Linked DNA regions of Homo sapiens: region 2 is linked to region 1. The links come from fine-mapping of genetic effects on gene expression. A gene starts in region 1. The other region holds a variant in brackets. All regions are shown on one strand. Distances are from middle to middle.

Region 1 (5,379 bases):
ACAGTGGTGCACAGGGCTCTTTTCACTCCCTTACCTCCACCACAGGTCGTTGTGTTATGGCACAGAGCCAACAGCTTTTTTCCCCTTGGTTTTGGGTGGATGAGCTAGTTCTCTCATATTAGAAAAGAGTAGTTGGCCAAATGGAAACCTTGAAATCTACTTAAACAATGGAGACCTATCCAATCTGCCTTCTCAGAACATGTGTCTTAGGAAAAATGCCTGGACTGTTGAATAAATGCAGGAGAAAGTTTGCAGCATATGTGAAAAGAAAAATAAATAAACCCAGAGACTCGATCTGTGGAAGGGACATTCTCCCCATTGGTTACAATGGAAAATTCCTCAAGCACAGCCTGGCCAATGAGCCTGGGCCTACCTGATTCATCACACAGCTCTGTCCCAATCTAGCCCTTGATTCAGAAAGATACAGGGGAAATTTTCCCAAATACTATTCCAAGGCCTCCTGAAACAATTTTAAGATCATTCCAACCGAAGGCACAATGTCTTCTCATCATTTTGATTCACTAAGAGATGAACTTAGCTTTTCCCCACTCTGCTCCTACTCCAAATTGTGCCAATATCCAAGAGAAGCTGCAATGTGTAACTACAAAAGGACTGAATGTTGGAACCTCGGTGATAGATACAGCTCATCCCATGGAAGAACCAGCCACGACAACTTGTACTGAAGTGGATTAAATCAACTTGTACCCGTCTTCACCTGTTACTAAAATTTTAAATGTGGATTTTGAACAAACAAGTGTATAAGTCTTAAGCACTAGATGAAAATAAAATAGAATCTATTGAAAGTTGAACTGAACTCCCCCCACCACACACACACACACACACACACACACACACACACACACACACACAAAATAACTATGTCAAGGAACATTTCTGCTCTTTTCTCCCAGGGATATGCAGTCAATTTCTGGAGATGAGGAAGATGTCATTTTCTATCTACCAGAAGTATCCATACTGCATGGAAATCTAATGACAATTCCCAACCTCAGTTAAGGACTTGTTTTTCCATTTTTCTGAACTTCAAATACTTTCTAAATTGTGTTAGCCGAAGCATTGTATGTATATAATTAACTCATAGGTCCCTCTGGGCCCATCTAGCTAAACTTGTGGAGCTTAACTGAGCAAAACATTTGCTGATGTCTCTCCCTACAGTGGTACCCATTGAAATGAATACCTTCTACAAGATGAAACCTAGGAAATGTCGTTTCCAATTGGCTTTCTACTGATTGGGGTTGATGTCTTTTCCAAATTGGCTTTCTAGTGATTTGGGTTGCTTCATTAAATGTTTTTGGTTGTTTCATAACAATAGTAATCTCATTTTCTTTCAAAAGTAGAGTTTGAAATTTGGGAAAACATGGGTGGGGAGGGAATTCTACATTTTCTTCCTAGTTGAAGTAGGAAGACAGGTCTCTTTTCTGTATTAATTGGACTCCTGAAATTCCCCCAGGGTAGCAGTGGCTCTCTGTGGGCACAGGGCTCTTATGCTTATGTTTCTGTGCTTCAATGTACCTTCCATGCTGACAGCAAATAGAAGGTGTTCCTGCACAAGCAAAACCTAACGGAGAGGCTGCAATAATTTGTCCAAAACGAAGTGCAAACTGCAAGGGAGAGTGGACTTTTTCAGACTGATCCTGTTTACTAGTCTGGTGCTTTCCTCCACCTGTGTAGACACAGATGCTTTATTGAACACCAGCCTCCTACAGTTAGAAGGTATTTTGACTCTTAGGAATGGGGGAACCAGTTGCAAAGTTCTGGCCCCTGATCCCCCTCCTATTCCTACTAGAGGGCTTAAGATAGGCTCTGAGCGGCACTTCCCACTTTCTCCTCTTTTTCTGAAGCTTCGAGCCCCAAACCTCGCCCTTTAAATTCACCAAGGGACCACATGCATCATATAAGGGTGAGGAAAAGGGACCTGGATGTAGACTTCCTGACTATCCAAAGGAACCTACTTCTCTTTGCTGTTCTCAAGTTCAGGCGTCCGGAGAAAGGCAGGGAGCTAGGGGCTCTGGGTGCTAGCGTAGACGTGGCCCTTAGCTGAGTGGCGCGAGAGGGGAGGAGGTTGGAAGAGCGCGTCTATGCGTTCCACCTGAACCTGCAAGCTAGTCGCTTGCTGCCCAGGTGCCGATTCGCGGCTGCATGCGCCCCACTGCAGCAAAGAGCAGCCGCAGCCTCTGCCTCGGCCACCACTGCTGCTGGGAAAGAGTCGTGGGGCTGCTGACGCGGTTGGGAGGAGCCTCGCCTTTAATGCACCAGCCGCCTCCAGCCTCCTGCAGCAGCAGCAGCAGCAGCAGCAGCAGCAGCTGCGAGTGCGCGCGTGTGGGTGTGAGGGTGAGTGCGCTGGCGCCGGCTGCAGCGCCCTGCCCAGCTCCCCGCCAGCTTCCCTACCCCCGCCTGCCGGAGCCGCCCTCCCGTGGGACCAGCACCCTCATTCCGGCCAGGCAAGCCTGAATCCTGTCCCTGCCATCTCGCCACTGCAGCTCGGGTCCAGAAAGGCACCATTTTGTCGCGGCTGCCCGCTCTCCCAGGGGGAGGAGGGATCTTTTTTGCATTTTGGAGCGGCTGCCAAGGAGGGGAACCTGTTGGGCATCTCCCCAGACCCGCTTGTGAGCGCCTCCGGGGCGGGCGGGCGGGACCAGACCCCTCGGGGCACGGCGTATCTTGGCACCCGGAGGCAGCGGAGGCAGGCGCAGCATCCTCGCTGGGAACTGGAGCTGGAGTGAGCGCACCGCGCGGGAGGAGCCGCCGCAGCCTCGCAGAACCCGAGTGGAGGAGGTGACAGCTCCATTGCCGGGTTTTTATTTTTTTTCTCTCCGCCTCCCCGTCTCCTCCTCAGGCTCGGACCATGGTGCAGTCCCACTGGCTCCCCTGCCCCCCTCTCCTGTGAGACTGGCTGCGGGGAGGGATCATGGATACTTGTCTGCCGGCTTCTGGTTCCCACGCAAGTAAGCCTGCTGTCAATGGAGGAGGACATTGATACCCGCAAAATCAACAACAGTTTCCTGCGCGACCACAGCTATGCGACCGAAGGTAACGCCAGCCCCGCCGCATTCCGCCGTTGGGGCCGGGCGCAAGTTGCGGATCACTGTGCTTCCTGGGCAGCTGGGCGCGTAGTGGCGGAGACTCCTCCGGGCCCTAGGGCTGGGGCGGGGGCTCGGCTGGCCCCGGCAGCCCCAGTGCACCTCGCATCCATCCGGGCTCCGCGAGGCGAGCTCGGCGTTCAGCAGCAGGTGGACCCGGCGCCCACGGGAGTTAAAATGGCCCTCAGGGATTAGGCTTTTTCAGGGTGGGGCTCTCGCCCAGAAAGATGACCCCAGGAAGGCAGATGACCCCTTCCCCGAGATGTTCGCAGGGGTCTTGGGGGGAGATAAGAAGGGAGGGGCCCAGTAGGACCTTGGTCCCCCCTCCCTGAGCGAAACGATGTTATGTCTCTCAGTGGCTGCAGGGAGGGCAAGGTTTCATTTCCTGCCCATTCATCTCCCCGGCCGGCCAGGTTACCTGCTTAGACAATCAAAACCCCAAAAAGCCCTTTGCAGACGGGCGAACCTCTTTCCTTTTGGAAGTGCATTAGCAAAAATAAAAAGGTGGCTGGGGAAATAGTGCTCTGGCGGGCAGCGAATGAGGCTGACACGTGGGGTGAGCAACGCGATCGGTGGGGCCTTTAAAAATCACCATTATGAATTCTGCAGCAGTAGTTTCTGCTGAATCAACAGCCAGCAGAAAGCAAAAGGGTTCAGCAAGCTGAGCTTTGCCAAGAGGTGAAATTGTCGTCTCTCCCTCTCTCCCAGCTTGTTCTGACATAAGCACTAGTGCTGTGCGGGCAGGAAGGGAAAGTCAGCAGGTGGAATCTCATTCTGCCTTTTGTGTGTGAATAGAGAGTAGAGGCATTTTTTTCCCCCAGTGCCAAAACTTTTGCATTTTTGCTTTCATTTTCTACCTGTAGGCCTTTTATCCTTAGCCACTCATACAAAGTGTTGCATTATCACATTGTAATATCCATGCGAGAAAATGTATGTGGAAATGCTTTAGGACAATGTTGCAAGGTGTATTAATTTAAAATTATTATTCTTGGATGCTAACATTTCTGTAATATTTAATCAAATCAAAAGACTGCTAGAGAAATGTGATGGGGGGAGTAAAAGAGTTCAAGCTCTGAAAGAAATAAAAAGACACACACACATCTGGGGGTAAAGGTGGCATCTTCTATAAACATCCCTGGAAGTTCTAGACAGAAAGAATGTCCAGTGCTATTGAAAGTATATTCTCCATTTGTCATCATTTTTGGAGAGCATCAAGCCCAGTATGCCCATGGTGCTAGACAGATAAAGCAGAGTTGTAAGCTCTGGCTTCCAGGAGCTTAGAGATGGCTTTTAAGATGTGCAGCCCATCCCTCCCCTATACAGAGCACCATACTTACCGATTCTTTTTCTGTGCATGATGGCAACCTGATTGTAAGATGTTCTCCCTCAATCTTAGTGCTTTGTCACTGACTCAGTGACCTGATAGCACATGACTAACTCTGTATCTAAGCATGTCATCCAAGAGAGAAGTTGGCCTTGGGTCTGTTGGCTTTTGGGGGAACATTTATTTCTGTTTGTAACCACAAAGAAAGAGAGCTGCCTTCATGTTTTCTTGTATATTACATTATGCAGGCAAGAGAAACTTAGCAAGCTGAGAAAATGCCCAGAGTGGAGCTATGTGTACAGGAGTGTCAATTGTGAAGTGAAGAAATCAGTTAAAAATGGCATTCTTTATTGTTTTCAGGGCCCTGGATATTACCGTTGTTCTTATTTTTATTCCATTTTTGAAAACTCTGATTCTGGATAGAATATCTAGGTTCACATAGTCAAAAATAGATATGAGTTTATAGCAATGAGATTTCTGGCATGTGAGAATCAACCTCTCAGATTTCTTTCTCTTTCTCAAACACACACACATACTAATCACACTCAAAACTAACAAACCTTTATTTCACAGAAGCTTCTAGGTTTTAAAATCTGATCTTAGAGAAGGTATGAAAAGAAAAGGAAAATAGAACTTAAACGATGTAAATACCAGAAGTTGGATAGAACAAGAAGTTCCCTACAGTTTTGACCTATTCGTTTCAGGGAAGATTCATGCAATTTTGTTGCCAGAGGGGGAAGAGTCCCTGTTCTTCCAATGAATTCCTTAAGAAGTGTTAGTATACCTTGAAAAAGCACCAGATCAAAAGACTTTTTAAAAATTCTCCTCACTGGGGACTTGCCCCACAAGTTTTCTTCCCCCTTATTAACTTATACCCTCTTACTGGGTGGGGAATTAGCTTCTAGTCCTTCCATAGATCTTGCTTTTCTGTTTCCTTTACTATTTCTACATTTTCCT
Region 2 (5,379 bases), 200 kb after region 1:
TCTTTCCTTTCCTTACATTTGTTGCATATAACAATGGCGTGTTTAGCTACTGCAGTGAAAAATCAATCAAGCCTATTCCATATTCACAGGCTTGCAATGGCACCAACGGCTCCTGGATTAGATTAACTTTGTGAATGTGTCATTCTAGTATGGGTAATTTCTCAACCTTCGCTCTATCCTCCCCATCCTGCCTCGGCGGGTGGATATTGAGATCTCTCATTGATTGACTGCCCTGAAAGTGAATGCTGGCATGTGATGTGTGTAACTCAGTGGGATGCACATACTCTGTGTTTATGAAAATAAATAATAATTTCTGTTATCATTATTGATTGCCATCATTATCTGATTGTATCTGTCAGTGTCATGGGGTTTCAGTTATGGGATCAGAAAGCCCTCCACGAGAATTTAACCACTACCCTCACTGACAAGCCTTTGTGTTTTGACATGTTTCGCCTTTGGGGGATGAGAGTTTGGGATGTTTCTGTTCTGCTCATTGGCTAATATTTTTGGCTAATGTTCAGAGACATGATGATAATTGAGTTCCATGTCAGCCAAAGGAACTACTTCAGTTGGAATTAAAAGAGAAGCTAACATTTATGCTAATGTTCCAAGAACATTTTGCATGCATTGGCTAATTTAATCTTCAAGATAAACCTATAACATAGGCACTGATATTATCCTTATTGTAGAGATGTGATAGCTGAAGCCAGGGAAGTTAAGGAACTTGCCTTAGGTTAGACGGCTAGTAAGTGGTAATGCTTGGACTTGAGTGCACGTCTTTATGACTCTAAAACCCAAGCTGCTGTCCTGCCTCTTGTACTAAAATAGAATGCCTAATATATGCATCTGAATATTCAGTGTAAGCCAAAACACATATGAGTAAGCAGGGGCTGGAAAACAACTTTTCAAGGAGATTGTAAAAGTTACTGGTGCCTTGGGCACAGGTGGGCTTTCTGTTTAATTTTGGGAAAAGGCGGGGTAGGAAGGGTACATGAAACTAGGTCATGGCTTACCAAAGCTGGATGATCATCAGACTCTGGGAACATCTAAGTCATCTCCAACCAAGTGACTCAGAATCTCCAGGAGTGTGGCCAAGACACCCACCCGTATTTCTCGGCCATATTCTTGGCCATCCTGAAGATCAGATGGGTTTGAGACCCTTTGGCATAATGATCTCTCTACTCAAAAGTAGAGATTCTCAGATTTGATTTTTAAAATCCCTTCCTTTTTCCTCTTGTCTCCTCCTGCCTCAAGGTTCTGTATAGATCAGTCTGAGGACAACATTATTATCAAAATGTGGTTGCCTTTACACTAAGAGAGTGATTTGATTTAGAATGAGCATCCATGATGATTCTGTGATTGTGAGCTGTTAGTGCCTTTTATAACTCAACTTCTTTCCCCTTCTTACTCCTGGTCAAGTCATGGGGGACAGCCTACTTAGTTGCCAGTGTGCTATAATAGTAACACTATTGCAGACATTTATTAAGTATGTATTATGTGCCAGGCCTTCTGCTAGGCAGGTACCATCTCACTATGCCCAGACGGCAGCCTGTGGAGTGGGTACTACTGTTATTCCCATTTTGCAGATGAGGACATTTGATCTAGAGAGCTATAGTGACATGCTCATGTCTATAGCTACTAAGTGGCACAGCCATATTTTTAAACCAGGTTCAAGCTGACTCCAGAATAATAACTATACTTTCTTACAGAGGTTGGGCTGATAAAGTCACTTGTTGAAGTGTTTAGCATAATATCTTGCCATCAATAGACGCTTAGTTTATGTTAATCCCTTTCTCCTCTTTTTTCCCATCTTGTCTTTTACCTAGAGACTAGGAGTTTCAGGAAAGCATGATGAATATATTGAAAAGTTCGAAGTAGTATTACATCTAGAGACTAGCAATTCATTATGCTTTGAATCTGCCTTTGTACTGACTCTCCTACGCTGCCTTGCATTCAGAGTGTATTCACTGACAATAAAATATTTTCTTTCATCCCAAAGGTACCTTTGTTATGCTGCACTTACCATGTAGTAATTAGATCCAACATAGACGTAAATATAAGCAGAACCCTATACCTGGTTTAGGATCGAGTTCTCTTTGTCTTTTGCTCCCAAACCCTTTGGAAGGTGTCCATGGCTTCTTGAATGTGATAGGAACTAATAAAGGACACCTCCCATATGTACACTCAATGGCAGTGGCAAGCTGAGACGTCCACTAGTGTCAGAAAAAGAAAAGAATCACATTACAGAAGAAAATCTGGATGTTTCCATGGCCTCTGGTGCCATTTATCTTGAGATTCCCTGGCCATAAAGCCTGATAGTGTTACAGGCTCTGACACATTGTCTTTCCCTAACCTTGGTTGTTAAATGGTCTGAATTTCAGAGATGTGGGAAGGTTGACAGGGCAGAGTTCTGGCCTTTTTAGGGCTTTGCAAGTAAGGATCTTGTCACCATTCCAAACCTGATTCACACTGACCCAGATAGGATTTTCTCAAATGAGAAGTTATTAGAGTGATTCTCCCATCTTTTCATTTAAAGGGCTCTCTGTATACTTTTCAAAGGAAGTGAAAAATCAAGGATAATTGGATGATTGAAGGAGAGAATACTTTTATTTTCTGAATTTTTCAGATGAAATTATCTGAATTATAAGCGTAATGGGAAAGACATTCAGCCCACACCAGGTCCCATTTCTGAAGTGTGAGCTCACTGTTGCTAGAGCAATGGGTGTGT[C/G]TCCGGTCCCCGAAACTACACGTGCATGTGTGGGTGCGTGCAGGCATGTACATGGCATACAACACCCAAGCAGGGCATTGCTCAAGAATCCTAAAAATGTTAACAAAGTAAAGAGCTGACTTTTATTTATTTTTCAACTAGACTTTACTAATAGAAGATCAAAAATACATGCCTAGATCCCTTTTTGCTACTAGGTTATGCAAAGAACTAATTTGAAATCAGTAGAGGACTTCTAGGGCCTCTGCTCATTATGCATTAGGATTTTTGTAGAAAATAATTAGTGCAAATGGATTTGGAATCCAACTCAATAGAGGACATGATCACTTTGATCCTAGTACGTTGCAAGCCGGGCTTCGACTGATGCATTGATGTAAGCATTTTAAATACCAGTCCTTACCAGAGAAAAATATTTTAAATATTTCCCTAGGGGTAGTGTGCATAGCAAGATACTATCTTGTCTTTGACGCATAAAAACAAGATCTTGGTTGGAGAAAACTACTTACAAGGGTGGTTTCATGTTAAAGGAGACTGTTTTCAACAGAAAAATATATTTTATTCTCTGGTTTCCTTAGAATGGTTTAGCAACAAGGAAAGGAATTTTCTACCTGAAAGGTGTTAGGTTTGTGTTTGTTTGGGTGGAAGAAGGTGGGTCATGCTCTTGTAATTTGTTGTTGTGATCAGATGAGTTTATTTTCTTTTTACCAGAAAACTGTTAAAAGCAGTGGTACACACATGCATACACACACTGTCTCACACAAATGTCTCTGGCTCAAGTAATATAGGAAACCCTAGCTTAAACACAGTTAAGCAAATTTATTTACTTCAGGATTTCTGGGAACTTTTTTTTTTTAAGTGTGTGCAACGCTGTGGTTTTTTTTATTATTATTATTATACTTTAAGTTTTAGGGTACATGTGCACATTGTGCAGGTTAGTCACATATGTATACATGTGCCATGCTGGTGCGCTGCACCCACTAACTCGTCATCTAGCATTAGGTATATCTCCCAATGCTATCCCTCCCTCCCCACCCCACCCCACAACAGTCCCCAGAGTGTGATATTCCCCTTCCTGTGTCCACGTGATCTCATTGTCCAATTCCCACCTATGAGTGAGAATATGCGGTGTTTGGTTTTTTGTTCTTGCGATAGTTTACTGAGAATGATGATTTCCAATTTCATCCATGTCCCTACAAAGGACATGAACTCATCATTTTTTATGGCTGCATAGTATTCCATGGTGTATATGTGCCACATTTTCTTAATCCAGTCTATCATTGTTGGACATTTGGGTTGGTTCCAAGTCTTTGCTATCGTGAATAATGCCACAATAAACATAAGTGTGCATGTGTCTTTATAGCAGCATGATTTATAGTCCTTTGGGTATATACCCAGTAATGGGATGGCTGGGTCAAATGGGATTTCTAGTTCTAGATCCCTGAGGAATCGCCACACTGACTTCCACAATGGTTGAACTAGTTTACAGTCCCACCAACAGTGTAAAAGTGTTCCTATTTCTCCACATCCTCTCCAGCACCTGTTGTTTCCTGACTTTTTAATGATTGCCATTCTAACTGGTGTGAGATGGTATCTCATTGTGGTTTTGATTTGCATTTCTCTGATGGCCAGTGATGATGAGCATTTTTTCATGTGTTTTTTGGCTGCATAAATGTCTTCTTTTGAGAAGTGTCTGTTCATGTCCTTCGCCCACTTTTTGATGGGGTTGTTTGTTTTTTTCTTGTAAATTTGTTTGAGTTCATTGTAGATTCTGGATATTAGCCCTTTGTCAGATGAGTAGGTTGCGAAAATTTTCTCCCATTTTGTAGGTTGCCTGTTCACTCTGATGGTAGTTTCTTTTGCTGTGCAGAAGCTCTTTAGTTTAATTAGATCCCATTTGTCAATTTTGGCTTTTGTTGCCATTGCTTTTGGTGTTTTAGACATGAAGTCCTTGCCCATGCCTATGTCCTGAATGGTAATGCCTAGGTTTTCTTCTAGGGTTTTTATGGTTTTAGGTCTAACGTTTAAGTCTTTAATCCATCTTGAATTGATTTTTGTATAAGGTGTAAGGAAGGGATCCAGTTTCAGCTTTCTGCATATGGCTAGCCAGTTTTCCCAGCACCATTTATTAAATAGGGAATCCTTTCCCCATTGCTTGTTTTTCTCAGGTTTGTCAAAGATCAGATAGTTGTAGATATGCAGCGTTATTTCTGAGGGCTCTGTTCTGTTCCATTGATCTATATCTCTGTTTTGGTACCAGTACCATGCTGTTTTGGTTACTGTAGCCTTGTAGTATAGTTTGAAGTCAGGTAGCATGATGCCTCCAGCTTTGTTCTTTTGGCTTAGGATTGACTTGGCGATGCGGGCTCTTTTTTGGTTCCATATGAACTTTAAAGTAGTTTTTTCCAATTCTGTGAAGAAAGGCATTGGTAGCTTGATGGGGATGGCATTGAATCTGTAAATTACCTTGGGCAGTATGGCCATTTTCACGATATTGATTCTTCCTACCCATGAGCATGGAATGTTCTTCCATTTGTTTGTATCCTCTTTTATTTCCTTGAGCAGTGGTTTGTAGTTCTCCTTCAAGAGGTCCTTCACATCCCTTGTAAGTTGGATTCCTAGGTATTTTATTCTCTTTGAAGCAATTGTGAATGGGA

Which allele goes with the higher level. Positions count from the first base shown, and alleles are read on the strand shown. Sizes are in standard deviations (SD) of each study's normalised expression.
For the expression in sun-exposed skin of the gene that starts at base 2,293 in region 1, C is the high allele of the variant in region 2 and G is the other (moderate effect, 0.54 SD a copy in GTEx).

What was found. PIP is the estimated chance that this variant, and not a neighbour inherited with it, causes the effect. A credible set is the group of variants that fine-mapping cannot tell apart.
Region 2: its variant is the best candidate, but not a certain one, in a credible set for the expression of PPP2R2B in sun-exposed skin (GTEx, PIP 0.68).

The regions. Positions count from the first base shown.
Region 1 is chr5:146,875,671-146,881,049 of GRCh38, reverse strand. PPP2R2B (protein phosphatase 2 regulatory subunit Bbeta) reads left to right here and starts at 2,293. Exons shown (of 10, transcript NM_181675.4): 1 at 2,293-2,459; 2 at 2,855-3,048. The coding sequence starts at 2,979.
Region 2 is chr5:146,678,782-146,684,160 of GRCh38, reverse strand. The region is part of intron 5 of PPP2R2B (protein phosphatase 2 regulatory subunit Bbeta); the gene reads left to right. Among named protein-coding and RNA genes, the nearest start is that of PPP2R2B-AS2, 120 kb to the right of the region's middle. The variant C/G (reference allele first, on the strand shown) is at 2,729.